Regions from separate parts of the Homo sapiens genome. Here all the other regions are linked to region 7. Evidence: fine-mapped expression QTL. A gene starts in region 7. Each other region holds a variant in brackets. All regions are shown on one strand. Distances are from middle to middle. Region 1 overlaps LRP1 (LDL receptor related protein 1). Region 2 overlaps DCTN2 (dynactin subunit 2). Region 3 overlaps KIF5A (kinesin family member 5A). Region 4 overlaps RBMS2 (RNA binding motif single stranded interacting protein 2). Region 5 overlaps GLI1 (GLI family zinc finger 1). Region 6 overlaps LRP1 (LDL receptor related protein 1). Region 7 holds the start of MBD6 (methyl-CpG binding domain protein 6).

Region 1 (4,127 bases), 320 kb before region 7:
GACTGTGGGGACAACTCAGATGAGAACCCCGAGGAGTGTGGTGAGATTTGGGGCGGGGCTCCCAGGCTTCCCAGTGGCCAGCAACCACCCCCACTCCCAAGACTAATTCTGGCTCTGTGTCCCCCTGGCTGCTGCAGCCCGGTTCGTGTGCCCTCCCAACCGGCCCTTCCGTTGCAAGAATGACCGCGTCTGTCTGTGGATCGGGCGCCAATGCGATGGCACGGACAACTGTGGGGATGGGACTGATGAAGAGGACTGTGGTGAGCAGGGGGCCGACGAGAGGCCTGCAGGGGACGGGTAGTGCACAGTGGGGTGAGTCTGGTCCTCGTGGGAGCTGCACTGGGGTTAGGGTTAACCAGGAGGACTCGCCCAGGAAGGGGAGGATCCATTGCTAGGAGCCTGGGGGCTTTTCGTTAGGAAAGAGAAGCCCCTGGGGAAGGCTCTGGGGGCTGCCTGATGCCTTAGGTCTTGGAGGTGGGGCTGGGAACCCAAATGTTTGACCTGCTCCCCCTGCAAGCCTTGTCACTTAGGAATTGGGAGCCACTGTTATCTATGGGGTTGCCGTGGGAGGAGGAGGCAGGGGAGAATACCCAGGGCCTAAAGCCTCTGCCCTCCTCAGAGCCCCCCACAGCCCACACCACCCACTGCAAAGACAAGAAGGAGTTTCTGTGCCGGAACCAGCGCTGCCTCTCCTCCTCCCTGCGCTGCAACATGTTCGATGACTGCGGGGACGGCTCTGACGAGGAGGACTGCAGCATCGGTGAGGCCCGGCAGCGGACCGGACGCTGGTGGGGAGTGGGGAGAGCCAAGCCCTGGCCTGGGGTGGCTCAAGGGAGGGCATCCACTCTCTGTCCCCCACAGACCCCAAGCTGACCAGCTGCGCCACCAATGCCAGCATCTGTGGGGACGAGGCACGCTGCGTGCGCACCGAGAAAGCGGCCTACTGTGCCTGCCGCTCGGGCTTCCACACCGTGCCCGGCCAGCCCGGATGCCAAGGTAGGAAAGCGGGGCAGAGCAGGGGTGGACACCCCAACTGTGGACTCTCATGACCCTCCCTGTAACCCTTAGACATCAACGAGTGCCTGCGCTTCGGCACCTGCTCCCAGCTCTGCAACAACACCAAGGGCGGCCACCTCTGCAGCTGCGCTCGGAACTTCATGAAGACGCACAACACCTGCAAGGCCGAAGGTGCCGGAGCCACCAGAGGGCAGAAAGGCTGGGTGGGGCAGGGCGACCAGGATATCAAACGGGGCCGACTTGGAATGGAATGTCTTCCTGCGGACATCTTGCCCAGACAAGAAGCCCCAGACTCATAGTTGCAGCTGCCTGAGCACAGTGCTGGCCCAGCAGTGGGGGCAGGTCCTGGGGCTGGCTGACTGAAGGAGTCTGGGGTGTGGCAGTGCTCTGAATTGCACACACACCTCCTCACCCACCACTGCCAGGACGAGAGTACACTCAGACACGCATTGCACACTCACAGTCATGGGGGCCTCACCTGCACATTCCCCACATGCTTTGATGCCCACCTTGCCTTCCACATGCCTGTACACAGACATTCACACACACCCCTGGCACACACACCCCCACCATGCACTCCCATGCACACCCTCGTGCTCCATGCCAAGCACACACACCCCATGTGCCTATGCACCCCCGAGCATGTGCCAGGCAGTTTGTAGCAGAGAGCGTGGTGATGCCATCCAGCAGCCGTGAGGAGGTGGAAGTCTCTGGGTCTGGAGGGGCAGGGACAGCTTTCTGACTGAAAGGAGCGGGTCACAGTGGATCAGCTCAGGGGAGGAGAGGAGGAGGTCCAGAGGCTGAGGTTGGAGCCTGCAACCCTGAGCAGGGAGGGTAAGCAGCAGCTTCTGGCCGGAGCAGATGGTCCTACCAGGAGATGGGACAGTGTTCATGTGAAAGGAGCTGAGCTGGGTGGGGTGCACACCTGCATCCCACAGCCCCAGCCCTGGCCTCTTGCTTCTCCAGGCTCTGAGTACCAGGTCCTGTACATCGCTGATGACAATGAGATCCGCAGCCTGTTCCCCGGCCACCCCCATTCGGCTTACGAGCAGGCATTCCAGGGTGACGAGAGTGTCCGCATTGATGCTATGGATGTCCATGTCAAGGCTGGCCGTGTCTATTGGACCAACTGGCACACGGGCACCATCTCCTACCGCAGCCTGCCACCTGCTGCGCCTCCTACCACTTCCAACCGCCACCGGCGACAGATTGACCGGGGTGTCACCCACCTCAACGTGAGTGCCCAACCTGGCGTGGATGGAGTGGAAGAGCTCCATAGAGCAGGC[G/A]GTTCAGAGCAGGATTTGAAAAGGGCAGTGCTGGCTAGGCGCAGTGGCTCACGCCTATAATCCCAGCACTTTGGGAGGCCAAGGCGGGCAGATCACCTGAGATCAGGAGTTTGAGACCAGCGTGGCAACATGGTGAAACCCTGTCTCTACTAAAAATACAAAAATTTGGCTGAGCGCGGTGGCTCATGCCTGTAATCCCAGCACTTTGGGAGGCAGAGGTGGGTGGATCACGAGGTCAGGAGATCCAGACCAACCTGGCTAACACAGTGAAACCCCGTCTCTATTAAAAAATACAAAAAAATTAGCCGGGCATGGTGGCGGGCGCCTGTAGTCCCAGCTACTTGGGAAGCTGGGGCAGGAGAATGGCATGAACCCGGGAGGCGGAGCTTGCAGTGAGCCGAGATCGCGCCACTGCACTCCAGCCTGGGCGAGAGAGTGAGACTCGGTCTCTAAATAAATAAATAAATAAATAAATAAATAAATAAATAAATAGAGACTCGGTCTCTAAATAAATAAATAAATAAATAAATAAAATAAAATAAAATAAAAATACAAAGATTAGCCAGGCGTGGTGGCGGGCGCCTGTAATCCCAGCTACTCAGGAGGCTGAAGCAGGAGAATCCTTTGAACCCAGAAGGTGGAAGTTGCAGTGAGCCGAGTGCCACTCGGTTGCAGTGGCACCAAGGTTGCAGAATAGCACTGCACTCCAGCCTGGATGATAGAGCGAGACTCCGTCTCAAAAAAAAAAAAAAGAAAAAGAAAACAAAAGGGCAGTGCGAGGGGCAAAGGTTGAGAGTGGGGCAGGGGGCAGTCTTAGGATTGTGTTCTGAGGCATGGCCAGCGGGAAGACAGAGCAGTGGGAATGGTCAGCAGCTGGCTGTGCTGCAGGCAGCCCAGGGCACAGGGCATGATGGGCAGGCAGACAGCCCTCCGGCACCAATCCCCCATCCTTGCCACTTCCCACTGTGTACGTCTTAGCTACCTCATTTAACCTCTTTGGGTTTCACTTTGTTTATCAATAAAATTAGGTGATCATCGCCATTGCACAGGCTTCAGGGAGGGCTCACCAGCCACGTGTGAGAGCTGCGAGTCTGGCGCATAAGCTCCATGCCGGTTGAATCTCTTTAAAGCCAGGGTCCTGGCTGTGAGCCTGGGGTGACGTTCCAGCAGGCTGGCAGAGTGGTGGCGGGGGGATAATGGCAGGAAGACAAAGCAGTGGCCCCTGAACCTGTGGCTTCCATTCAGATTTCAGGGCTGAAGATGCCCAGAGGCATCGCCATCGACTGGGTGGCCGGAAACGTGTACTGGACCGACTCGGGCCGAGATGTGATTGAGGTGGCGCAGATGAAGGGCGAGAACCGCAAGACGCTCATCTCGGGCATGATTGACGAGCCCCACGCCATTGTGGTGGACCCACTGAGGGGGTGGGCAAGGGCCCTGGGGGGAGGCCTCTGGGCTGGTGGTAGGAAGCCCCCGGGACAGGGTTGGGGGCTGCACCCACATGCGTGCCCTTCCCTCCCAGGCCAGCCTGAGGACAGAGTCCTTTTCAGTCCCTTGGGTCTTCTCGGCCACCCCTGCCTGGCCCTCCCCATGCTGCCTCTGCCCAGGGCCCCCAGCTGGGCCTGCTTGGGCAGGGATCTGACCTCTGCTTGGCCGGCTGTCATGCACAGCCACACTCTGCCCTGGGGAACAGCTCTGCCAGCGTCGGTGGCTCTGAATGAGCACACTGTGGTTTTAGAGGAAAAGCCCCTCAACCTGCTCAGAAGCAGACTCCCGCCTGCTTCTCTGTAGAAGGACAGAATGCCCTCCTCCCAGTCCCCAGCA
Region 2 (4,127 bases), 21 kb after region 7:
ATTAATGATCTTTAAACATAAGGCCAGCAGGCCCCTCAGTGACCCAGCCAGGGACTCACTGGAATTTAAAACGATTAGCTACAACAATAGCACAGTGGCAGAGCATTGCATGCGAGATGGCAGATGAAAAAAACATGCAGAGAAGAAGCATTGAATGGTCTTACTTGTGCAAACTAGTGTCCAGGCAAGGTGGTGAGGAGGGAGGATGGGGGAAGCATTAGGAAAAACTCAGGTAAGTTCAAGTGCGCCAACAGTCAATGAACACAATCAAGCATACTCCAGGATCTTCTAAACTGTAAGGAAGTACTGTTTCTCATCTCAGGAGTGTCCAGTAATATCTACCTTTTGGAGAAATGAAGCCTCTGCCAGGGCCCCATCAAACTATGGCTAGGTCATTTTTTCCCCTTTTACTGCGGGTAGTTATGCCATAAAGAGAGAAGCTAAATTGTTTCTAATGAGGTTTTTCTTAATTTACTTCCCTTATTCCAGCAGTTCAAAAGCCATGAGCAGAAAGCCTCACTGACCCAAGGCAGGCTGTGGGCCCAGGGGTTAGGGTCGGGGTGTGTGTGTGGGTGGAATTCTATTTGGGAATTAGTTTTCCAAACATTTTAAGAAAAATCTCCAAGCAAGCCTATTGCCCCAATTAACCTGGGAGTGTCTGAAGTGCAAAGAGATCTTCCCAGATTGAGGAGGAAAGGGCTACAGCCCGTGCACTTTCCTGGTCCATTCCTGTTTTAGAAGATTTTACTTCCTGCTAAAATTGTTTTAAAGGGATAGTAGAAAAATCAGGATTGGCCAGGCACAGTGGCTCATGCTTGTAATCCCAGCACTCTGGGAGGCCTAGGTGAGTGGATCACCTGAGGTCAGGGGTTTGAGACCAGCCTAGCCAACATGGTGAAACCCTGTCTCTACTAGAAATACAAAAAATTAGCCGGGTGTGGTGATGGACACCTGTAATTCCAGCTACTCAGGAGGCTGAGGCAGGAGAATCTCTTGAACTCGGGAGGTGGAGGTTACAGTGAGCTGAGATCACGCCATTGCACTCCAGCCTGGGCAAAAAGAGTGAAACTCCATCTTGAAAAAAAAAAAAATTCACGATCATCTGTAGCAAAATTTAAATCTTTTATGCTTTCCTCCCCCATCCTCCCCACTATGGGAATCGGAAAATGTTTATGTTTAAGTTAAATTAGCAATTTAAATCTTTAAGGGATGTTTGAGGACATTTTTCCTTTAGTAGCCCAATTTCTTCCACAGTGGAGGAATCACAGGAAGAAAGTTATGGAGCAGTGAGGGTCAACACAACTTGACTATTCCTTTAGACAGAAATCTGGAGACCCGGCTGGCATGGTAGCTCACGCCTGTAATCCCAGCACTTTGGGAGGCCAAGATGGATGGATCACTTGAGGCCAGGAGTTCGAGACCAACCTGGCCAACATGGTGAAACCCCATCTCTACTAAAAATACAGAAAATTAGCCAGGTGTGGTGGCACATGCCTGTAATTCCAGCTACTTGGGAGGCTGAGGCAGGAGAATCGCTTGAACCGGGGAGGCAAAGGTTGCAGTGAGACAAGATTGTGCCACTGCACTCCAGCCTGGGGGAAAGAGTGAGACTCTGTCTCAAAAACCAAAAAGAAATCTGGAGACCCCCTGAAAGGTTCCACAAGAGTCTATCCATATTGGTTGTCTCTAGGGAAGAGAACTGAGTGGTGGTAGGCAGAGGTGGGAGGCAGATTTTTCACTACTTACCCTTGAATCCTCTGTTCCCTGTGCATACATTACCTACTTTAAAAACTGATAAAATTAAAGTTGAAAATAAACTGAAGATTAAGGCGGAGAATGCTGTTGTCAGGGGTTAAGAAGGTGACTGAGGCTGGGCATGGTGGCTCACGTCTGTAATCCCAGCACTTTGGGAGGCCAAGACAGGCGGATCACGAGGTCAGGAGATCGAGACCATCCTGGCTAACACATGAAACCCCGTCTCTACTAAAAATACAAGAAAATTAGCCGGGTGTGGTGGTGGGCGCCTACAGTCTCAGCTACTCGGGAGGCTAAGGCAGGAGAATGGCGTGAACCCGGGAGGTGGAGCT[C/T]GCAGTGAGCCAAGATCACGCCACTGCACTCCAGCCTGGGCGACAGAGTGAGACTCCGTCTCAAAAAAAAAAGAAAAAAAAAGAAGGTGACTGAAAATCTCATGGTTCAGCCACAAGACAGGTCATGTGCACTGTCACTTGTACTAGGTCTTGGGCAGGTAGGCAGGAAACAGACAGGCTGCTGGTGAGATCCCAGGCCTCACGGACATGACATTTCTAGATTATCTAAGCATACAATTCACTGCTCCTCAAATTGCATATTTACGTCAGTATTAAAAGCAGTGGCAGAGCCATTACTCAGCTGACTTCCCAAAAGCTGCAAGCCCCATAGGGACATGCGGGGGCCAGAGACATTAGCTGACATCAGGAAACATCTTGGCTCTTCGGGCCCCTGAAGTGGCTGAAGGTCTGCCCACCCCATTCCTCCCTAGTGACAGAGAGTCACTTAGCTGAGCCTTAGGTGACAGAAACAATTCAGCTCTTCTTGTATTTGCCATTCAGCTCATATGCACTTCTATACTGGCATCCTGGGCAACATGCCACAGGAAATGAACACTCACAGTATCCTCTCCTCATCAGCCACCCCACTAGATGCTACTAAAATAGGCTGTTCAGGCTCTGGGGGAGAAACAGCCAATCAGAGCTGCACAGTCAGGTTCTTCCACACCTGGAATGGGTGTCATCTCCTTTTTATTAAGAGATATCCCAGTATCTTCAAAAGGGAATGACAATATGTATTTTTTTGTTTAGAAAGAGGATTACTGTGAAACTACCTGTTTGTATCACAGCGACAAAAGGACTGAGTTCTATTCATTATCTCACCATGAAGGGCAGAAGCCTAGGCCTAAGTTGAACAGTCTGAACTGTGGTAGTGCAGTAAAGTTCTCAGCATACAGCTGTCTCTTGGCAACTGTGGGAGACTGGTTCCAGGACCTCCCTTGATACCAAAATCTGCATATGTTCCCATCTTCTATATAAATTGGCATAGTAACTGCATATAACCTACCTACACCCTCCTGTATACTTTGAATCATCTCTAGATTACTTAAAATACCTAGTACAATGTAAATGCTATGTAAATAGTTGTTATATTGTATTTTTAAATTTTGTTTTTTTTTTTATTGTTGTACTGGTTTTTTTTTTTTTGAGATGGAGTCTTGCTCTGTCACCCAGGCTGGGGTGCAGTGGCGCAATCTCGGCTCACTGCAACCTCCACCTCCCAGGTTCAAGCAATTCTCCTGCCTCAGCCTCCACAGTAGCTGGGACTATAAGCGCTCGCCACCACGCCTTGCTAATTTTTATATTTTTTAGTAGAGACGGGGTCTCAAACTCCTGGCCTCAAATGATCCACCTGCCTCAGCCTCCCAAAGTGCTGGGATTACAGGCATGAATCACCACACTGGGCCTATTTTTTATTTTTAAAAAATATTTTCCATTTGTGATTGGTTGAATCCATGGGTTTGGAACCCATAAATACAGAGAACCGATTGTATACACTCCTATTCTGTGAGGACAGAGGCAGCTTCCTATAAGATGCCTCTTGGAGTGACAGGTGCACACCCAGGTCCTTGAGCAACAACATCATCTGCATTATCTCCAAGATACTCAAGCTTAGGGGATAGATTGGCATGCCAGCAAATACAGAAGCCACAAGGAACACACCACTGGGAGAAGGGACAGAGAAGGTGTTTCCCACAATGTAAGAACCACTTCCACATGGGGGAGTCAAATAAGAAATAAGTGAGTACGCCAAGCCACACATTGTAAGCCAGCAGTCAGCATTCCCCAGAATTAACCAGCCCCACAGACATAGCCACAGGACTTACAGACAAGCATACTGAGCCTGCATATTGCAATGACTCTTGGACACATCTTTACTGAGAACTCACATCATCAATGTGATCCCAGCCCAGCTGTCTTCAGAAATAATAGAACCTAAAACACATCCTATAAACACACCTCTTGGCACTTAAACAGAGTTTTTACTATGTTGATTTCCATTCACTCAATTTTTTTTTCCTTCTATATGTTTCCTATATG
Region 3 (4,127 bases), 54 kb after region 7:
TGTTTTTAGTAGAGAGAGGGTTTCACCATATTGGCCAGGCTGGTCTCGAACTCCTGACCTCGTAGTCCACCCACCTCGGCCTCCCAAAGTGTTGGGATTACAGGCGTGAGCCACCGAGCCCGGCCCAGAATTGGATTTTTTTTTTTTTTTTTTGAGATGGAGTCTCACTCTGTCGCCCAGGCTGGAGTCCAGTGGTGTGATCTCGGTTCACTGCAACCTCCGCCTCCTGGGTTCAAGCAATTTCCTGCCTCAGCCTCTTGAGTAGCTGGGATTACAGGCATGTGCCATGATGCTTGGCTAATTTTGTATTTTTAGTAGAGACAGGGTTTCACCACCATGTTGGTCAGGCTGGTCTCGAACTCCTGACCTCAGGTGATCCACCCACCTTGACCTCCCAAAGTGCTGAGATTACAAGGCATGAGCTACTGCGCCCAGCCAGAATTGGATTTTTAAATGCAGGCGGAGGAATTTAATGTGAAATGCCGCTGATAGAGAGCTGCTAAAGGTCGTTTGGAAAATACCCATCCCATTTGAGTCCCTGCGTATGTGGGTGTGTATGGGTAGGTAGAAGGTGGGAGGGAACAGATAAAGCTTCCCAGCAGCCAAGAAGCATCTCTTCCTCCTTTAATCACCTTAGCCAGTGGAGATCAGTGGGGCCATCGAGGAGGAGTTCACTGTGGCCCGACTCTACATCAGCAAAATCAAATCAGAAGTCAAGTCTGTGGTCAAGCGGTGCCGGCAGCTGGAGAACCTCCAGGTGGAGTGTCACCGCAAGATGGAAGTGACCGGGCGGGAGCTCTCATCCTGCCAGCTCCTCATCTCTCAGGTGAGTGCCTAAGTTTGAGAACCTTCAGATGCCATGGGAGAAAGAAGGCTACTCTGGGGTTATGGCTAAAACTCCTAACACCCACCTTTATGTCAAAGTTCTGGGGTCAAGTGAAATCAAGGACAGAAAAGCTGGGGTGGCAGGGGTGCAGATCAGGGCCAAAAAAGTAAAGGCTCAGGGCGGGTACTGCCCCCTGAGCCATGGGAGCTAAAGGAAGAGCCCCATAGGAATGGCCCCCAACCCTGCACCCTCATGGGAAGTGTAGCAGGAGGGAGGGCTGGGAGGAGAGCTGGAGTTGGAGATCTGTGTGGCCTGGGTTTGTGTCCTTTGCTCCATCTTCTTCCTCTCACCAACTTTCTCCCACCAGCATGAGGCCAAGATCCGCTCGCTTACGGAATACATGCAGAGCGTGGAGCTAAAGAAGCGGCACCTGGAAGAGTCCTATGACTCCTTGAGCGATGAGCTGGCCAAGCTCCAGGCCCAGGGTGAGGCCTTCTTATACCTCCATCCCACTGTCCAGGGCAGAAAAGTCAGAAACATCAAAATAAATCACCCCAATAATCACTCACTCAAAGCATTAGCTTGAAATCATGGATGCCAACTCATATGTTAGCCAAGGTTTTGCATGTAGCTCATTTTACATTAACCATACACCCTTGTTCTCTGTTCCTGCTATATCAAATTGGACAGTCCTAACACAGAAGAACATCCCTGTGGGTCCATTCCCAGCCCTGCCTGGAGTTCTGGTCACAACGTGAAGTTCTTTCCGAAAGAGGTAGGTTTGATGTCAGCTGTCTTCCCCTCTTTCCCTTAGAAACTGTGCATGAAGTGGCCCTGAAGGACAAGGAGCCTGACACTCAGGATGCAGATGAAGTGAAGGTGAGTAAGGAAGGTGTCAG[G/A]GACAATTGGGGCCTGGTGTGGTGAAAGCTGTGCTGGCCCTCACAGAGCTTGTTGCTGGGAGTCTGGCCTTTGAGCTTGGGGTGGGGTTGTTTGCAGAAGGCTCTGGAGCTGCAGATGGAGAGTCACCGGGAGGCCCATCACCGGCAGCTGGCCCGGCTCCGGGACGAGATCAACGAGAAGCAGAAGACCATTGATGAGCTCAAAGAGTAAGGGTTCCCAAGGGCGACTCCAGCCCCTCCCGGGTCCTGTCACCTTGCTGTATTGACTCACATGTCCCCTCTGGGTCTGATTCTTTAACATCCATGTGTCATTCCCTCAACAATGCCACAACTTCGTAGCCCCACCTCAGGAGACACATGGAATAACGACTAGTCCCTATCCTTGAGGGTCCCAGGATTAGAGAGGTCAGGGTTCCTGGCTCTGTCATGGAAACAGTGGCCTGAGTCTGCCTCTGGTATCTGAAGGTGGACACATCAATTCTAACTGGACTCACTCGTTCAAAAAGGAAGAAGTTTGAAGAGCTGGCCTTCCCTTCCCCCTCATTAACATCTTTCTCCCCCATCTCCATTACCTTCTGATGCTCTGTAGCCTAAATCAGAAGCTCCAGTTAGAGCTAGAGAAGCTTCAGGCTGACTACGAGAAGCTGAAGAGCGAAGAACACGAGAAGAGCACCAAGCTGCAGGAGCTGACGTGAGTGGCATGGATTTACCTGTAAAACTACAGCCTTGTAGGCTCAGAACTGTGAACTCAGACACGCTTGCAGAGGCAGGACACACATGCAGACATGATAGGGTGACTCATGGGAAAAATATGATGGGGTAGGGACGGGACCAAAAGGACACTCTCAGCAAAGACTGCCGTTGAGTATTCACCAGTATGGAAGGAGGTTTACGTGTTCTATTCAGTGTAAAAACAGGTTACAAAACCATATGCATGGTATGATCCCATAAAAATGTATACATGGATATGTAGGCATAGAAAAAAGTCTAGAAAGGTGGACACCAGAAGGTTAATGTTGGTTTGATCTGTAAATAGTAGAATCATAGGCTTTTTATAAAAACTCACCTTATGTCTCTCTTTAAAATTCTTTTCTAATTTTTGCACAGTAAACATGAGTAACTTGTGTAATAAATAATAATAGGCTGGGTGCGATGGCTTACACCTATAATCTCAGCACTTTGGGAGGCCAAAGCAGGTGGACTGCTTGAGCTCAGTAGTTCGAGACCAGCCTGGGCAACATGGCAAAACCCTGTCTCTACTAAAAATACAAAAATTAGCTGGGCATGGTGGCATACGTCTGTGGTCCCAGATGCTTGGGAGGCTGAGGTGGGAAGGATCCCTTGAGCCCAGGAGGTTGAGGCTGCAGTGAGCCCTGATTGTGCCACTGTACTCTATCTAGCCTAGGTAACAGAATGAGACCCTGTTTCACAAAATAACAATAATAGTAATACTTAAATGGAGATAAAAGTAATAGAGGAAGAGGCAGGAGGAAGGAGAGTCCTGAGGGATCTTTCCATTTCCCTTATTTCTCTTGCTACAGATTTCTGTACGAGCGACATGAGCAGTCCAAGCAGGACCTCAAGGGTCTGGAGGAGACAGTTGTGAGTGGTTCCCTTCTGTGCCAAATTCACAGGACTGGGGAGTGGGGAGGCTTCATTTCTTCCTAACCCTATTCCTCCTGCCCTTTTGCAGCCATTCTGTAGCGTAATCAAGACACATTTTTTCCTAAAGGATAAGTGACTCACTTGATTATAGAGACTGGAGGTACCTATAATTCTGGAGGAATAGGACAGACCTGGTATCTGGCTATTCCCAATTTTTCATCATTCTTTCCAGGCCCGGGAACTCCAGACCCTCCACAACCTTCGCAAGCTGTTCGTTCAAGACGTCACGACTCGAGTCAAGAAAGTGAGTGCTGTCCTTGGGGTTTTGTCAGCCCCCACATCCTCCTCCTATCCTTAGGTTTCTCCTGCCCCTGTTGCCCCTATGGGGCTGGCTTGGCCTGGTCTTGGTGGGACCTGTTTGGCCTCAGGACAGCCACGTCTTTCCTTCTATCTGTTCTCAGAGTGCAGAAATGGAGCCCGAAGACAGTGGGGGGATTCACTCCCAAAAGCAGAAGATTTCCTTTCTTGAGAACAACCTGGAACAGCTTACAAAGGTTCACAAACAGGTAAGAGTCTGCTGAAGGAGTGAAGAGAATTTTTGAGGCCGGGTAGCTAGCATACCAAATCCTCAGAGGCCCCTTGGATTCAGGAAAATCTAGTTGCATGTTTTCCTTACTGTTCGCTTTTACTTTCCCTACTAATCCCTTCTTTATACCATATTTGGTCCACTTGTACCTTGTTCTTTGTTTCATGCCTGTATTCCCTTCTCAAAGTTTCTAACCCACCTCTGCTCAAAG
Region 4 (4,127 bases), 960 kb before region 7:
TTTGAGACAGGGTCTCGTTATGTTGTCCAGGCTAGTCTTGAACTCCTGGGCTCAAGTGATCCTCCTGTCTCAGTAGCTGGGATTACAGATGCATGCCACCACTCCTGGCCTTGCCAGCTCACTTATCCTAAAAGGCAATGGCATTTTGTTTCTACTCCATAGACACAAACTTTCTCAGCAGCCTCTTAAAAAATTCTACCTGCTACTGGCCGGGTGCGGTGGCTCATGCCTATAATCCCAGCACTTTGGGAGGCCTAGGCGGGCGGATCACGAGGTCAGGAGATCGAGACCATCCTGGCTAACATGGTGAAACCCCGTCTCTACTAAAAATACAAAAGAATTAGCCGGGCATGGTGGCGGGTGCCTGTAGTCCCAGCTACTTAGAAGGCTGAGGCAGGAGAATGGTGTGAACCCTGGAGGCTGAGCTTGCAGTGAGCCGAGATCATGCCACTGCACTCCAGCCTGGGCAATAGAGTGAGATTCCATCTCAAAAAAATAAAAATAAATAAAAATCTACCTGCTACTGATATATATTATAAAGCCTTTATGTGTTTCTCTAAGGAAAGCCAGTGTGGGACTGGCCTTTAAAGCCTAATATCCAACTTTATTTCCAGCACCTCCCCCAACCTGATGGTCTTAGTGGAAAGACTGCTGTCCTTACACCTTGAATAGAGAAGTTTAATATCTCTATAGATGTTAATTAGAAGGCATGAGAGAGCTGGCAGTGGGGATGGAAGAAAGTGGGACTCGCCAATCAAATCATGCACTTTGGAGACTTTCTGCTGCTGGAGATATTCCTTGGGAATGGAGACCTCAAATTAGCAGATAAAGAAGGTGGAGATAGGAACAATTATTCTGTATCTACCCCATGAAGACCCTTCGGAGTTCTTTTTAGTAGATTTGATTCATGGAATTGCCCAATTAGGAATGTTGGAAAAATGGCAAGAGTGCACAGATGTCCAGCTCAAAAAATAATAAGCAATAAAAAATAAAGTCTGGTGTATATAAAAAACTGGTCCTTGGGCCGGGCGTGGTGGCTCACACCTGTAATCCTAGCACCTTGGGAGACCAAGGCAGAAGGATTGCTTGAGCTCAGGAGTTCAAAACCAGGCTGGGCAACATAGTGAGACCTTGTCTCTATAAAAAATATAGTAAAAATATATATTAAAAAAAATTTTAAAACTGGTCCGTTATCTCAGCTTACCTTGCTAGAAAGGTATGTAAGTGGAATTAAGGGGACTGTCTTGGACTAGTAATTTTTGAGAGGTGGGAATTAGCAGAAATGTTGGTTTTTGAGGGAGCGAAAGAGTATCATACTAATATAGGTCCTTGATTTCTAAATTTTGTTTCTTGTACTAAATATAATGTGCTACAAAAATTCTCTCACATCACAAGACAGAGAAGAATCTTTTTTTTTTAAGACTGAGTCTCAGCCTCCCAAGTAGCTGAGATTATAGGCGCACGCCACCACATCGGGCTAATTTTTGTTTTTTTTTTTGCTAGAGATGGGGTTTTACTGTGTTGTCCAGGCTGGTCTCGAACTCCTGACCAGGTGATCTGCCCACTTCGGCCGCCCAAAGTGCTGGGATTACAGGTGTGAGCCACCGTGCCTCGCTCAGAGAAGAATCTTGATTAGACTACCATATATTCGTTCCTCAGTATCTGGGGGGGATTTGTTCCAGGACCTCCTCTGTCCCCCTGCATGGATACCAAAATTCACTGAGCTCATGTCCCTACGCTTTTTTTTCTTTTTAAGACAGGATCTTGTTCTGTCACCAAGGCTGGAGTGCAGTGGTGTAATCACAACTAACTGTAGCCTCCAGGGCTCAAGCAATCCTCCCACCTCAGCCTCCTGAGTAGCTAGGACTACAGGTACACACCACCATGCTTGGCTAATTTTTTGTAAATTTTGTAGAGATGAGATTTCATCATGTTGCCCAGGCTGGTCTCAAACTTATGCGCTCAATCATTCCTCCTGCCTCGGCCTCCCCAAAAGCTGGGATTACAGGCATGAGCTACTGAGCCTGGCTTCAAGTCCCTTAGATAAAATGGTATAGTGGCCAGGCATGATGGCTCATGCCTGTAATTCCAGCACTTTGGGAGGCCAAGATGGGTGGATCACCTGAGGTCAGGAGTTGGAGACCAGCCTGGCCAACATGGTTAAACCCCGTCTGTACTAAAACTACAAAAATTAGCTGGGTGTGGTGGTGGGCACCTGTA[G/A]TCCCAGCTACTCAGGAGGCTGAGGCAGAAGAATCTCTTGAACCCAGAAAGCAGACGTTGCAGTGAGCCGAGATCACGCCACCAGAAAGCAGAGGTTGTAGTGAGCCGAGATCACGCCACTGCACCACAGCCTGGGTGACAGAGCAAGACTTCGTCTCAAAATAATAAAAATAAAATAAAATAAAATGGTGTAGTATTTGCATATAACCTATGCACATGCTCCTATATACTTTAAAATTATCTCCAGATTACTTATGATACCTCAATACAATACAAATGCCATGTAAATAAATGTTATACTGTATTGTTTAGGGAATAATGACAAGAAAAAAGTCTGTATATGTTCAGTACAGATGCAACCATCCTTTCTTTTAAAAAACATTTTAACTTTTATTTTAGGTTAAGGGGTACATGTGCAGGTTTGTTACATAGGTAAACTCGGGACTTGGGTATTTGGTGTATAGATTATTTTGTCACCTGGGTACTAAGCATAGTACCCAACAGTTATTTTTTTAGTTTTTTTTCCCTGAACCTCTCTTAGAAGAAAGACTTTTTTTTTTTTCCTATATATTTTCAATCCATGGCTGGTTCAATCCACAAGTGGGAAACCCACAGATACAGAGGGATTTTTATTTTGCCTTTCTGAACAATTGCCTTATCTTTTGCTGTGTCTGAAGCATAAGTATAGTCAAGGGCAGCATGTAGGATCGAAGTAAGGAGCCCAAAAGGGGACTGTGGAGAGGCAGGAGTGAGGCAGGAATGAAAGAGGTGCCAGAGGAGTCCTGACTAGGAGGCTGAGCAGAGCAGGTGGGTGGAGCCCTCTGTCCGCTGTGAGCAGGGAGTTAAGCCTTTCTAGGAAGGATGTTTCTCATGCGTAGACGGACTTCCTGCCTTTGTCCCAGTTGTCTCTCCCTGGGTTGTAGAGGAAGTAAATATTGCTGGATCCTAAAGTCTGGCATGTGGGAAGGAGAGGCGTGGAGTCTAGGACTGGAACTCCTGTTTCTCGGAGGGGCTCCTTCAAGGAAGCAGCAGCAGTGACCCAGCTGTTGCCAGCTGCAGTGGAAATTCTGAGCTCAAAGTCTCAGCTGCTAGACCACAGCAAGCTCCACCCTGGGGCCTTCATAAGGATAGCAGCACTTGTGTCCTCTGCCCCACAGTCAGACTTCTCATGAGTCCCTCCCCTGCCTCAATTTGGGAATGAATCCAAGTGTGTAGCCTGGAAGGGCTAGGATAGCCACATCCATCCTCACCCTCCTTTTAATGTGTTCTGTTCCCAGCTTTCAGGGCATTGCTTGGCTTATTCTGTCTAATCCTTTGGATCACAGAAGTTCTACTAAAAAAGTCAGTGAGATGCCGCCAAGGAGTGAAAACAAATCAATCATCATATGTTCTTTAGGGATGGAAGGAGAGATGGGAAAATTGCTTGTTTGGGGTATTATTCTCAAATTCATTCCCTGACAACTATTTTCAGTTAGCTCTTGTACTTCTGACTTTGTTAGTGATTTCTGTTCTGTCTCTTTAATATTTTCACCCTCCTGGAGTGGAATGTAGAGGCTTTTTTCTAGTGGAACGCTTCTAATATAATCCCTGATCTGTGATACACTACTACTCAAGTTTTAGAAGTTCCACATGACTCTGCTACCAAAGTATAATTTTCAAAAAGTTGAAAAACACAACTGTTAGGCTGGGCACAGTGCCTCACACCTGTAATCACAGCACTTTGGGAGGCTGAGGCAGGTGGATCACTTGAAGTCAGGAGTTCGAGACCAGCCTGACCAACATGGTGAAACACCATCTCTACTAAAAAATACCAAATTAGCTGGGTGTGGTGGCGCATGCCTGTAATCCCAGCTACTCCAGAGGCTGAGGCAGGAGAATCGCTTGAACCCGGGAGGCGGAGGTTGCAG
Region 5 (4,127 bases), 49 kb before region 7:
ATGGGCCTCTCAAAGTGGGAGGCACAAACCCCAGCTGTGGTCATCCTGAGGTGGGCAGGCTAGGAGGGGGTCCTGCCTTGTACCCTCCTCCCGAAGGACAGGTATGTAACCCCCTGGACTCTCTTGATCTTGACAACACTCAGCTGGACTTTGTGGCTATTCTGGATGAGCCCCAGGGGCTGAGTCCTCCTCCTTCCCATGATCAGCGGGGCAGCTCTGGACATACCCCACCTCCCTCTGGGCCCCCCAACATGGCTGTGGGCAACATGAGTGTCTTACTGAGATCCCTACCTGGGGAAACAGAATTCCTCAACTCTAGTGCCTAAAGAGTAGGGAATCTCATCCATCACAGATCGCATTTCCTAAGGGGTTTCTATCCTTCCAGAAAAATTGGGGGAGCTGCAGTCCCATGCACAAGATGCCCCAGGGATGGGAGGTATGGGCTGGGGGCTATGTATAGTCTGTATACGTTTTGAGGAGAAATTTGATAATGACACTGTTTCCTGATAATAAAGGAACTGCATCAGAAAAAATACCATGCCACTTTATGTATTATTATGTTGGGGAGGAATGATAACAGGGAACAAGAAGAGAAGCAGGGGTTAATCCACTCACTTTCCTCTTTAGAGAAGCTCCCTCACCCATCCCAACACCTCAAGTCACACTCATGAAGATAGAGACAGTCATTTGGGAGATTTAAAGGGATATCCTCAAAACAGAACACCAGCCTCTCACCACCAGAGATGACCGGAAATATGTTTTCTCTTCTTCCTTCCCTGCATCAGGGGAAGAGGCTGGTGAAGTTGGTGAGCATCAGCTGGACCAGCTGCCCTGGGTAGAGAGCATGGGCTGCTGGGTCAGATGTCTCCTGCTCTGGCCGAAACAGGGTTGGTCCAAACACAATTCCCAGGTTGTGGGGTGTCATGCGATTCTTATCTGAGTGTGCTATCACCCTGTAAGCAAAGGCCAAGGAAGGGGATATATGGCAGCAGCTTGCCACTTCATAGCAATCTAACTAACCCTTCAAAGTTCTGAGCAGGGAAGAGTTCACTCTGGGATTCCTCCACATGGTAACAAAAAAACCAAGGAGATACAAGGAGAATGGAGATGGACCAGTGGAGAAACCTTCAGGATACAACCTGAAGATATAACTGCCTCTTCCGACTTCAGGGGCTGCCCCAAGAGTTCTGCCTGCTCACAGTTTGGGAGTCTTTAATTCAAGTGGCCATCCTCTCTCAGAAGTCACTGCCCAGGCCCAGTTCAACCAAAGAAGCCATCAGCAATGTCCCAATGGGAGACAAAGAGGCAGAGGGAAGGGAGAAGTAAGATTTCCCTTATTCCTTTCACAGCATCTTGGTTCCATTTCCCCACTTGATGCTGACCTTTAGGTTTTGACCTAAAGTCTTTGACGGGCACGGTGTAATCCCAGCACTTTGGGAGGCTGAGGTGGGTAAATCACCTGAGGTCAGGAGTTCGAGACCAGCCTGGCCAACATGGTGAAACCCCGTCTCTACTAAAAATACAAAAATTAGCCAGGCGTGGTGGCGGGCACCTGTAATCCCAGTTACTCAGGAGGCTGAGGCAGGAGAATTACTTGAACCCGGGAGGCAGAGGTTGCAGTGAGCTGAAATTGCGCCACTGCACTCCAGTCTGGGTGACAGAGCGAGACTCTGTCTCAAAAATAAATAAAATAAAAAAATAAAGGTTTTGACTCTGGTAATATGCTCCTGCACAGAGGTTGCCTGCTTCCTCACCTGCCCATTAAACTTAGGTGCTTCCCTACCTTCACTCCACCTGCACAGAGTCCCTGTGGCATTCCCCACTCCACCTTTCCCCAGCATGAACAAAGAGGTTCTGTCTTCCTGACCTGCATAAATGCTCCAGGAGGTACCGTAGAGTGTCATGGTTGGGCTTTGGCATTGAGCCTATTAATTCTTGTATCTGAGAGAGGCACTGCTCTGATTCGGAGAGTGCTAGAGAGAGTGATGGGAAAGGCATGGT[A/G]GTAAGGTTAGGGAAGGTGCTAGGACAGGATGGGTAAATGCACTGCTCTTTCCCACAGGCATGGAAGACATCATTAATCTAGCACAGCTTTCTTTTTCACATAGCCCAACTATAGCCTCATAATTCTTTTCAATTCAGCCCTCTAAACATTCACAAAAAAGCAACTGGAGTAGGCACCTGAGTTGAACATTATTTTCCATCTCTAAAGTCAGAATGGGAAAGAAGAGTATAAGGGAACCTCTATTCTATTATTTACCACCCGTGTCCCCCACATCAAGGGTTCTTTCCAAAGCTCCAACCCTTACCAAGGGCAGCACGGAAATGGGGCAGCAGCAGTGGTGGCACCAGAGGCTGGGGCAGCTCCCGGAGAAAAAGCTTCAGGGCTCCGGTGACCACATGAATGTCATCCCACTCAGTACTGTCCAAATCTAACCGACCTTCTGGAGGGAGAAGGAGGTATAGGGGCTCATGAAGGGCCAGAAAGATTTAGAGACTGAGAGATTAGAAGTTCTGGAGAAATCCAGTCAAAGCAGACTATAGGAATGCCTAGAGGGTCTGCAGTGGGGCAAGGTAGCTAAGGTGGGGATGAGGACAACCCTCCCAGGAATAGTACATGGGGGTTTCCACGGGAAGCAAAGAGGATATGTGGAAGTTTTAGGGATCTGAAGGGTCTTCCATGTAAGTACCTTGTCCTGGCTGTTCTGGGAACACATACCTCCCATCGGAGGTGACCGCACGCTCTGCAACATGAATGAGGAGAGATCAGGAGCTAAGACATACACTTCCAGCCTGACGGCCTCTCTATTCTGCCAGCTTCCTCATGTAGGACCGCCCATGGTTCTCAGGCAAGACATTCTTAGTACAACCACTGGCCCACAAGCCTTCTCACCTCTGTCCACCAGAAAGCGAAGCTTCTGGACCACTGCCAAGTTCCCGCTCACCCGATAAATGCCATCCACATCTAGACCTGGGAGATGAGGAAGGAGTAGATAAGGACTGCTGCTTGAAAGTGTGTGTGGTGAGGGATATAAGGGTGGAGAGAAAAAGGGCAGTAGGAAGACTAGGTAGAATGGGGGAGGCAGAAAATTCTAGGCCTTAGCCTGTTGGAAGAGGATTCTGGGGTCTCTGAGAAAATGACCTCTTTTATCCACAGCAGCAATGCAGAGCCGCAAAAAGCTGGGCACCGTGTCTCCTTCCCGCTGGCAGAGTGATTCCAACTGGCAGCCGAACACCTGGTCTGGGGAAGTAGAGTGAGGCGGGAAGCCAGTGCCAGCGTCACTCACAGGAGCTCTTCTCAGCATAGGTCTTTATCCTTAAGTGAGGCTGGTCCTCCTGGCTGCCTGTGCCAGGCCTGGGCAAGGAAATACACTCCACCTCCCTTCCCCTGCTTCAAACAATCTGGCAAAGGGGTACAGGTCACCCCAGCTTCTCCCCTAAACAATCTGGGGTAGTGGGAAAGCAGCAGTCACAGAAGGTTGTGGTCTAGTTCTGGGAAGCTCTACTCTGAGCCTCGCTGGAGTTTTCTTATCCATGAACCTGGCCCAGCCCCCTCACCTCGGAGCAGACCCCGCTCCTGCAGGCTTTGTAAGGGCGGTCTCTTCGCGATGAGCCGCTTTAGTTTGTTGCGCACGCGGTTCTGCTCGGTGCCTTCGGGCCCCCGAACTGCAGGAGGCAGGTAGAGCGGGGCGTGAGCGCCCGGGAGCCTCGCTGCGCTCCCGGACTCTCCCTCCCCAGCCCGCGCCTCACTGGAGCTCCGGCGGCTGCTGAGGCGCAGCAGCGGCTTGGACACCAGCTCCGACTCCTCTTCTTCGTCCTCCCCGGCGCTCAGCTCCGCGGGTCCAGAGCCCGACAGACGCAGCTCCAGGGGGTTCTCCCGATCCTAGACCCGGGGCGGGCCGTGTCGAAGGTGAGAGAGGAGAGAAATCTGTATCCCTAGCTGGACTCTGACCCACTGCCGGGGTCCCACATCCCGGCCCAGGCAAGGGCTCTCCACTGAGCCCACCCTGCCCCCAACTGCTCCTGACTCCTATCGTTCCTACCCCACTCCCTTGGTCCCGGCCGGTCGGAGCCTCCCTCCGGGCCTCCACCCATCTAACCAGCCGCTCGATGACAGTCCGCAGCGCGCG
Region 6 (4,127 bases), 350 kb before region 7:
CTGCTTCCCCCTGACTCAGTTTACCTGCAACAATGGCAGATGTATCAACATCAACTGGAGATGCGACAATGGTAAGAGCTTGCTCTCCTCACCTGCTGATTCCTAAGACAGCTAGAGGCTACAGCCAGGCCCTCCAGGGAAGGCAAAGGGCTTCAGAATCCAGCAGGGCCTCCCTCCAGGACACTGAATCCCTGCTGGGTTGCCTGGGAGAAAACAGGAGAAGTCAGAAATGCCTGGAGGGAGCCACGATGGACCAAGGGGAGACCATCACCTTTTAGTGTCATTCCTACCCCAGGCAGGGCCTGAGCTGCCCACCCTCTAGTAGGGCTCGGAGGCCAGGGAGAGATGAGTGAGATGGGCCAGAGAGGCAGAGCAAGGAGAAACCGGTGCCTGACTCCTTTCTCCTTGCAAACCCCCATTTCCTGGAGTCCTTGGTGCACCCCTCAGGCTCTGGGCTTCAGGCTCAGAAGCCCACCTGGCAGATAGCCATGGACCAGGTGATGTCAGCCTTGAGCCACCAGGGCTAGTATGTGTGTAAATGTGCGGGCAGGTGACTGCCGTGTGTGGTGTCTCAGGGCTCTGTTCTGTCTGTGTTGTGTTGTGACGTGCTGCCCCAGTGGTTCCTGTCCCAGCTGATGTGTGAGCGGATGTGTTGGGTCAGTGCCACGTTGCCCCTCACTTTTTCTGTGTCTCGCATGCCAATGGTTGCCCCGGCGGTTTCTGTGTTTCAGAGAAGGATTGTGGGGACGGCTCTGACGAACAGACCTGTCCTGAGCCTGCCGGTCAGTGCATAGAAGCACATGCACCATCACCCAGAGCTCAGCTGGCCCCAGCCCCCTGCAGGTTCTCCAGGCCCCTACTCCAGAGCTGCTAGGATATGAAGAAAAAGCAACAGAGAGGAGGGAGAGCAGAAAACAGAGGGAGAAAGCAAATAGTGGTCAGGAAAGAAGCAGAGACGGCAGAGGGAGCCTCTGAGGAAAGGAGATGACAGAGAGGTGGTGACAAAAAGCCCAAGATGCAAGGGGAGGAGAGAGTTAGAGAAGCAAATCCAGTTGGAAAAGAGGCAGGAACATAACCCAAACCCCAGTCTCCACCACATGTCCCATAAATACAGAGGGTCAAGTCAAGCAGCCCCCACCCAATGCTGAGAAAGCAGGAGCTTCCTTCAGCCAGCCTCAGCGAGCTTGGTCCAGAAGTGGCCCCCACTCTTGCCAGCCACAGGCAGGGCCCCTGTAAGCCAGGCACCCAGAGCATGGTATTCAGCAGTGCCAGCCTCAGGGCAGGCCTGTAAAGCTTGTCTCAAGCCGGCCACGCCTGCACCCCACCTACCTCTCTCCCTCCAAAACTAGAGAAACCCCTGCCTTTCCCCCAAAAGCAAGCAGACCCCTGTTCCCACACCTGCCAGAAAGGGGAAATGAAATGTTTAATGTTCCCTGCACCCAGCCTTTCTGAGCTTCAGTGAGGGGCCCTCCAGGAGCCTTCTCCTCCTCCTCATCCTGACCACGTGGGCCATGGTGCATGCTGCAGTCTATGCAGTTTCTGTGTCTTTTCTGTTTGTTATTTTCCCAGTGGGGGGGTTAGGGTGGGCTGAGGGTGGGTTCTGGGCAGGGGGCCCAAGCTGGGATCACAGAGAAGGCTGCTCCACCAACTCCCGCTTTGCCTCTCCCCTTCTTCCCCCACCGCCAGACAATGACTGTGGGGACAACAGTGACGAAGCCGGCTGCAGCCACTCCTGTTCTAGCACCCAGTTCAAGTGCAACAGCGGGCGTTGCATCCCCGAGCACTGGACCTGCGATGGGGACAATGACTGCGGAGACTACAGTGATGAGACACACGCCAACTGCACCAACCAGGGTGGGCACCAGGGGCCCGTGGGGTGGGGATGAGATCGAGCCCCCTGCATCAGACACCCAGCCTATCCATCTGTCTTTCAGACCCACGGTGTGTCGGCCACCATCTGGGAGCCAGAGGTAGCCTAGGCATGGCTCTTGTCCTTCAGGAGCTCCCGGTCCTGTGGGAGAGGGAGGTTGCCGAAAAATCATTGCCACACGCTGTTAATATCATGCGCTTTGCAGTTGGTGGCCTTGGGTTTGAGCTCCAGCTCTGCAGCTTATTATCTGGGTGGCCTTGAGCAAGTTACTTAATCTCCATGGGCCTCTGTGAGTTTCGTCTGCAAAGTGGGGTAATAATAGCACCAACATCACAGCGCTGA[T/C]GTGGGAGTTTAGTGAGATCACGCACGAAAAGTGCTCAGCACACGGCCTGTGTTTGGTAAATAGTAGCTTGAGAAAAGGATGCTGCAGGCAGGGATGAATGAGCCTGAAGAGACAGAGGAGAGAGGGCCTGGCTCCACAAGGCTCCCAGTGCCCTGGCCTCTGGGGCCCAGCCTCGGGGGCGGTGGGGACCTAGTTTTCTGGAGGGATGGGCCCTCTCAAGGAATGCTGGCTTCCTAGCTCTGGAAGATGTGCAGATTTTTATGTGAAAACTACCAAATTTTTAACACTACAGTATTAGTTTCTCTCGTCTCACAGTTCTGGAGGCTGGAAGTCCCAGACCCAACTGTTGGCAGGGTGGGTTCCTTCTGAGGCCGTGTGGGAGATTCTGTCCCAGGCCTCTCCCCAGCCTCCGCGGTTTGCTGGCAATCTTTGCAGCTCCTTGGCTTGTCGAAGCTTGACCCGATCTCTGCCTTCATCTTCACACGGTGTCCTCCCTGTGGGCATGTCTGTCACCAGATCCCCATTTCCCCTTTCTGTGAGGACACCTGTCATATTGGATTAGGATACACCCTTATGACCTCATCTTAAGTTGACCATCTGCAAAGACACTATTTCCAAATAAAGTCATATTCACAGGTATTATGGGATAGGACTAATATCTTTTTAGGGAACACAATTCAAGCCATACCAACTGGCAGTTGATTTTAGAAGTTTTAAAAGGCTGGGTGCAGGCCAGGCATGGTGGCTCATGCCTATAATCCCAGCACTCTGGGAGGGTGAAGTGGGAGGATCACTTGAGGCCAGGGGTTCAAGACCAACCTGGTTAACATAGGGAGAACCCATCTTGAAAAAAGAAAAGAAAAAAAAAAAAGGCTGGGTGTGTTGACTCACACCTGTAATCCTATCACTTTGGGAGGCAAGGCAGGAGGATCACTTGTTTCCAGGAGTTTAAGACCAGCCTGGGCAACATAGTGAGACCCCTTTCTCTACAAAAAATAAACAAAATTAGCTGGGCATGGAGGCACATGCCTGTAGTCCCAGCTACTCAGAAGGCTGAGGTGAGAGGTTGAGCCCAGGAGGTTGAGGCTGCAGTGAGCTGTGAGCTCGCCACTGCACTCCAGCCTGGGTGACAGAATAAGACCTTGTCTCAAAAGAAAAAAAAAGTTTAAAAAAAACTACAGACCAAACTCTTCCTGCAGGCCTCATCTGACCCATGGACCACTAGATTACAGCCTCTGCCTTATAGAGTTAGGGCACATTCCCACCCTAGTAGGAGAAGACTGGACAGCGTTGAGTGCCCACCTTGAGCCCTGCCCTGAGAGGGAGGACAGAGAAGGCCACAGGAAGCTTGGGAAATAGTAATTGCGTCTCCAGGGCTATCTCTGTGAAGGGGAGGGTGAGGGGCACAGGTGATATCCCTTAGGGTTCTGAGAAGGGGCCTCTGGAGGCTGTGTGGTGTGGTGAGAAGAGCTCCCTGCCGCTCCCAGATAAGCTGGGCAAATTTGGACAAGTTGCTTCCCCTGAGCCTGGGCATCCTCCTTTATGAAATGAGCTGAGGTATGTGAGGCCTGGCGTGGAGGAGCAGGGTGTCACTATTGGTAGCAGTTGTTAACTATGGTATGAGCTGGATGGTCTGGGACCATTCAGGAGGAGTTGTGTTTAGACTGCAGGTAAATGGACAGGAGGGAGGGTCTTCCAGTGGGGATGGCATGGTCCGGAGAATGCTGTCGTCAAGACTTAGAGGGTGAAACTGAGCACTTCCGTAGGGTGACAGTGGGGCCAGGTGGAGCCGTTCAGACCGAGGGAAAGGCTCGTGCAGGGACAGTGGGGAATGAGGCTGTCCTCAAAGGGGGCAGATGATGACAGCAGGTGTAAATCGTGAGAGGCTTGATTTGGGAGGCACTGGGAACCTTT
Region 7 (4,097 bases):
TTTTACCATGGCCTTGCCCTCCTCTCAGGGGCGGGACCCCAAAACCTACCAATCAGAAAGTGGCACGCCGGCATTGGCCCCGCCCCGTCCCTCGCATCCGCCACTCAGGAGCCCCGCGGCACCGCCCCCGTCGCTCCCTCTCGCTAGGGGGTCGACGTAGTGTCGGACCCGGAAGTGGCTTTGGGTCACGAGGCTTCACGGAGGAGGTGGGTGAGTCATGCGCGCGCGCGGAGGGGAGTGTAGCGGGGGGGGAGGGGAGGAAAGGGGGGCGGGGATGATGCAATGTTTGGCAACCGGTGTCTGCACGCGCACGCGCAGGGGACACCGAGGGTGGTGGGAGGTGCGGAGGGTGGGGGAGAGGAGAGAGGGCGGGGCGCCAGCTCCCGGCGCCCAACGGCCCCAACGGCTATCAGCCTTGGTCGCCCCTAGTCGGTCGTGAGCCTCTTTGCCGCTTGTCTCCCCCAGAAGCTGCTGTTCCGCCCACCTAGCTTTACCCGCCGTTTTACCCCCACTATAAGGGACTCCCATATTTCTTGGCCCCTCCCAGCTAATGGGCACATAGGCCTTTTGAACTTTTCTTTTTAAAGTTGGTATCCATCCACTGGGATTGTCGACATCTCGAGTCTTCTTAAAGAGGTCTCCTGGCCGGGCTCAGTGGCTTACGCCTGTAATCCCAGCACTTTGGGAGGCTGAGGAGAGCGGATCACTTGAGGTCAGGAGTTCGAGATCAGCCTGACCAACATGGTGAAACCCCGTCTCTACTAAAAATACAAAAATTAGCCGGGTGTGGTGATGCGCGCCTGTAATCCCAGCTACTCTGGAGGCAGAGGCAGAAGAATCGCTTGAACCCTGGAGGCGGATGTTGCAGTGACCGAGATCGCGCCACTGCACTCCAGCCTGGGTGACAGAGCGAGACTACGTTTCACCAAAAACAAAAAACAAAACAAACAAACAAAAAAACGGGGGTGGTCTCCTGTTCTAGCCCCGTAAATCTCCCAAAAGGGGCCGAGGTACTGGAATCCCTTGGTAGTCATTTTCCGCTTCTCTCAGAACAGCGCCCTTGACTTTTACCTTGTAGTTGGTAAGCCCTCAGCCTGCCAGAAGTCATGTATTTTGCCCAGTGGACCCGATTCTGTTTGGCCACCTATTTTCCCCCACGGTACTCCTATGGCTTTCTCCAAGACCCTCTCTTGCTGTACCAGACAGCAAGTCCTGTGACTCCCTGTGTGAGGAGCGCGGCACAGGCCTGCCTCCTAGGTGTTCGGGTCGAGATTTACAGCGGAGTCTCATCCCGGGACGTGTGAGTGCACTTCAGCGCAGGACTGCCCTGGACTGGGGAGACCGGAGCCGCGATTTTAGACTCAACTCCCCATCACTTGCCAAGGGATCTTACCGTCCTTGTTTGTAAATTAAAGATAAAAGTTGTGAAGGTAAAATGAGAACCATGAACTTGGAGGCAACTTGACCAAAAGTAAAACGCACCACCCAGAATGCAAAGTATTTTTCTTGTGCCTTGAAAACAGAGGCCATGTGGTGGCCTGTTACATATCCTGTCATACCCTCATGGGGGCAGCCAGAGTTTAAGTAGAAACTGTCACAAGGCCGGTTGTGACTGGAGTGGTGTGGCAATGACAGGTCTTTGGTTAGGCTGCTCCGCTGCTCCACACCTCCATTTCCTCTCTGAAAATGGGGGTAGTGTGGAGGGTGGACCAGATGGTCTCCCCTGGCCTAAAGACAGACCAGGTTGTCAGTGACAGGCAGAGGTCATGTGACTTGACAGGCTGAGGTCGTGTTGTGACATGTTGACCTGGGGAGGCGGGTCAAGTCCCAGCACACTACCCGGGAAGCCTTTGGGGCGGGGCAGGGCAAGTCGCGACTTTCATCTTTCGGGGCCTGGCCCCTCCCGGACCTGGCATTCCTGGTTCCCGCAACAGACTGTGGCTTTGGAAGGGGCCCCTCCCTGAGGAGGGCTGGGATTGGCCACCAGTGGCCTGGGAAGAGGCGCAGATCCTTCCGCGGAGGGCGGGGGGGCCGCGTGGGGTGTTTGTTCTCTTGGGGATTAATGGGGGGTTGTGGGGGAGGGGTAGGCGCGCTCCCGCATGCGCACTGCAGCCCCTCCAGTTGGCTCGTCGCTGTCCGCTGGGCGGGGGCCCGGCCCCGCCCCTCTCCCGTCCGGGCAGCGGCGGAGGCGGCGGCTCCTGCGGCGGCGGCTGCGGCAGCGACGGCGGCGGCGGCAGCGGCAGCAGCCTGCGCAGTGCCTTCTGGGAACGGAATCCCCAGGGCTGCCCCTGGCCCCCATGGCGCATGCGCGGGAGGCCGCTCGGTGATCCGCGGCGGCGGCAGCGGCGCTTCCTGCTAGGACCGGCCGGGGCCGTACCGGAGGCTCGGGCTCCACCGACCCTCCTCCCACCCCCTCCCACTCACCCTCTGGGCCGCGACTGCGCAGGGCGGGGCCGGCCGAACCATGGGCCGCGGTGAGTGCGGGGCCCGGCCCCCCCCACCCTGCCCCTCCCCCTCCCGTCCCTACCCTCTGCCCCCTCCGCGTCCTCTCGGCCCCTTTCCCCGGCCCCATCCCCACTCCCCCGCCCTCACCTGCCCCCGCCGCTTCTCCCTCTCACTGCCAGACTTCTGCCTTCCTCACCGCCCTCCCCTCAGTGCTTCGCCCACCCTCCGCCCGCCCTCTCCCCAAGTTCCTTCCTACTTCGTGCGCCTTCCCCTCCTCCTCAAGCTGAGGGAAGCAGTCTGGGTGACAGGGCGCCTTGTTGTGAGAGGGAAAGTTTGGAAGCCGCCAGTGTGGGGTGGGAGCAATGGTGAGGCTGGGGAGGATACCTGCAGGTTGGAGGGGCTTCCCCTTCTATCGGAGGACAGGCTCTCTTGGAGATAATCGGAAGCCAGTGGAATAGGAGGTTCTGAATCCCTTTGCCGTAGGCTTGAGGGAAAATCAGGAGCTTCCCAGGATCCTGGGAGAAGACTGAGCTGTGATCCTCACCTCTTAAGACCCGAATGAACTATATCAGCGATTGTCTGATGGAGCAGGCATGGGGGGAGTTCTGCTGGTACCACCCCAGCGGGCAGTTGGGCAATTGCCTGGTGACCTGTGGGGCAATCTGTACTTTTTATATCATCTTCCTGGGTAGAGAACAACAGGAGCCAGACACTCTGGGAAACTTCCTAGTGGCCTAGCATTATGGGAATGTGCCCATACTCCTGGTTGAAGTCTTCTACTCCGAATGGAGGGAGGCCTTGCCCTTCATATGCCTAAGAATTGGGCTAGACTTTCTTGGTCCCAGGGAGCTGAGGTTCTGACCCTCTGGTCCCTAGGGACTGGGCTTGGAAAGGATGGTTGTAGACTAAGCCAGCAGATCCCCGAGATCTTTATAGGTGCTTGCCTCACATTGTTAAGGATCTTTCTTTTGAGAGGGTGCTGGGCTGTGCTGCTCTTTAGAGTTGGGCAGACTCCTGACAGTCCCATCTCTCTACTTGCGTTGCAGGTGTGGGCTAAGCTGGTGGCCCCGGCTTTAGACTGGACCCCACAATGTTTGCAGAGATGTTCAGGTAGCTGTGGTGATACGGCAGAGGACTCCTCAGTCTCCCTCCCAGCTGAGGGGTTCCCCTTGCTCCTCTGGGGCTTCCCCTGAGTTTTCTTGGGTCTCCCCACAACCTTTGCCTTCCTGGAGTCCTCTCTCAGGTACTTCGCTCAGTTTAATCCTCCTAGTGCCTACATGGATGTCTGTGTTATCAGGCACGCGGGAGCTGATTACACACAATGAATGGGGGCAATGAGAGCAGTGGAGCAGACAGAGCTGGGGGCCCTGTGGCCACATCTGTCCCCATCGGCTGGCAGCGCTGTGTGCGAGAGGGTGCTGTGCTCTACATCAGGTACGGATCTTCACAGGTCCCCAAGCTCTGCCACTCCAGTTGCCCAGGTTTTCTTTCTTCCGTTTCTTCTCTCAGCTCAGCTCTCTGGTACCCGATTGCTCTCCTCTCTTCCCCTTCCTTCCTCAGCCTTTTTGCTTTCTGTAGCTCTGGGCCTTTGAATCCATTCTCCCTTTTTCTGTGTCTTCCCACATTCCTTATCCTCTGTTCTTCTAGGAGGA

Evidence for each region. PIP is the estimated chance that this variant, and not a neighbour inherited with it, causes the effect.
Region 1: its variant is fine-mapped to the expression of MBD6 in whole blood (INTERVAL, PIP 0.98).
Region 2: its variant is fine-mapped to the expression of MBD6 in whole blood (TOPMed, PIP 0.97).
Region 3: its variant is fine-mapped to the expression of MBD6 in whole blood (TOPMed, PIP above 0.99).
Region 4: its variant is fine-mapped to the expression of MBD6 in cerebellar hemisphere (GTEx, PIP 0.99).
Region 5: its variant is fine-mapped to the expression of MBD6 in whole blood (TOPMed, PIP above 0.99).
Region 6: its variant is fine-mapped to the expression of MBD6 in whole blood (INTERVAL, PIP 0.98).

Annotation. Positions count from the first base shown.
Region 1 is chr12:57,204,490-57,208,616 of GRCh38, forward strand. It overlaps LRP1 (LDL receptor related protein 1), which reads left to right. Exons shown (of 89, transcript NM_002332.3): 71 at 1-40; 72 at 138-260; 73 at 620-760; 74 at 862-996; 75 at 1,069-1,188; 76 at 1,984-2,252; 77 at 3,549-3,727. Among named protein-coding and RNA genes, the nearest start is that of NXPH4, 10 kb to the right of the region's middle. The variant G/A (reference allele first, on the strand shown) is at 2,304.
Region 2 is chr12:57,541,200-57,545,326 of GRCh38, forward strand. The region is part of intron 2 of DCTN2 (dynactin subunit 2); the gene reads right to left. Among named protein-coding and RNA genes, the nearest start is that of DCTN2, 3.9 kb to the right of the region's middle. The variant C/T (reference allele first, on the strand shown) is at 2,088.
Region 3 is chr12:57,574,447-57,578,573 of GRCh38, forward strand. It overlaps KIF5A (kinesin family member 5A), which reads left to right. Exons shown (of 29, transcript NM_004984.4): 16 at 638-826; 17 at 1,194-1,311; 18 at 1,641-1,705; 19 at 1,823-1,932; 20 at 2,315-2,416; 21 at 3,267-3,327; 22 at 3,563-3,634; 23 at 3,792-3,896. Among named protein-coding and RNA genes, the nearest start is that of PIP4K2C, 15 kb to the right of the region's middle. The variant G/A (reference allele first, on the strand shown) is at 1,726.
Region 4 is chr12:56,562,634-56,566,760 of GRCh38, forward strand. The region is part of intron 2 of RBMS2 (RNA binding motif single stranded interacting protein 2); the gene reads left to right. Among named protein-coding and RNA genes, the nearest start is that of RBMS2, 43 kb to the left of the region's middle. RefSeq lists enhancers at 2,710-3,248, 3,249-3,786 and a silencer at 3,370-3,419. The variant G/A (reference allele first, on the strand shown) is at 2,221.
Region 5 is chr12:57,471,736-57,475,862 of GRCh38, forward strand. GLI1 (GLI family zinc finger 1) reads left to right here. Exons shown (of 12, transcript NM_005269.3): 12 at 1-533. The coding sequence ends at 326. It overlaps ARHGAP9 (Rho GTPase activating protein 9), which reads right to left. Exons shown (of 18, transcript NM_032496.4): 10 at 4,098-4,127; 11 at 3,748-3,880; 12 at 3,556-3,663; 13 at 3,140-3,238; 14 at 2,891-2,968; 15 at 2,688-2,741; 16 at 2,307-2,441; 17 at 1,868-1,973; 18 at 534-953. The coding sequence ends at 782. Among named protein-coding and RNA genes, the nearest start is that of ARHGAP9, 6.1 kb to the right of the region's middle. The variant A/G (reference allele first, on the strand shown) is at 2,002.
Region 6 is chr12:57,167,454-57,171,580 of GRCh38, forward strand. It overlaps LRP1 (LDL receptor related protein 1), which reads left to right. Exons shown (of 89, transcript NM_002332.3): 19 at 1-71; 20 at 1,687-1,854. Among named protein-coding and RNA genes, the nearest start is that of LRP1-AS, 22 kb to the left of the region's middle. The variant T/C (reference allele first, on the strand shown) is at 2,213.
Region 7 is chr12:57,520,538-57,524,634 of GRCh38, forward strand. It overlaps MBD6 (methyl-CpG binding domain protein 6), which reads left to right and starts at 2,287. Exons shown (of 13, transcript NM_052897.4): 1 at 2,287-2,474; 2 at 3,492-3,555; 3 at 3,743-3,879. The coding sequence starts at 3,767. RefSeq lists enhancers at 1-948, 1-734, 735-1,695, 1,329-1,438, 1,529-1,598 and 2 more and silencers at 1-404, 2,119-2,518.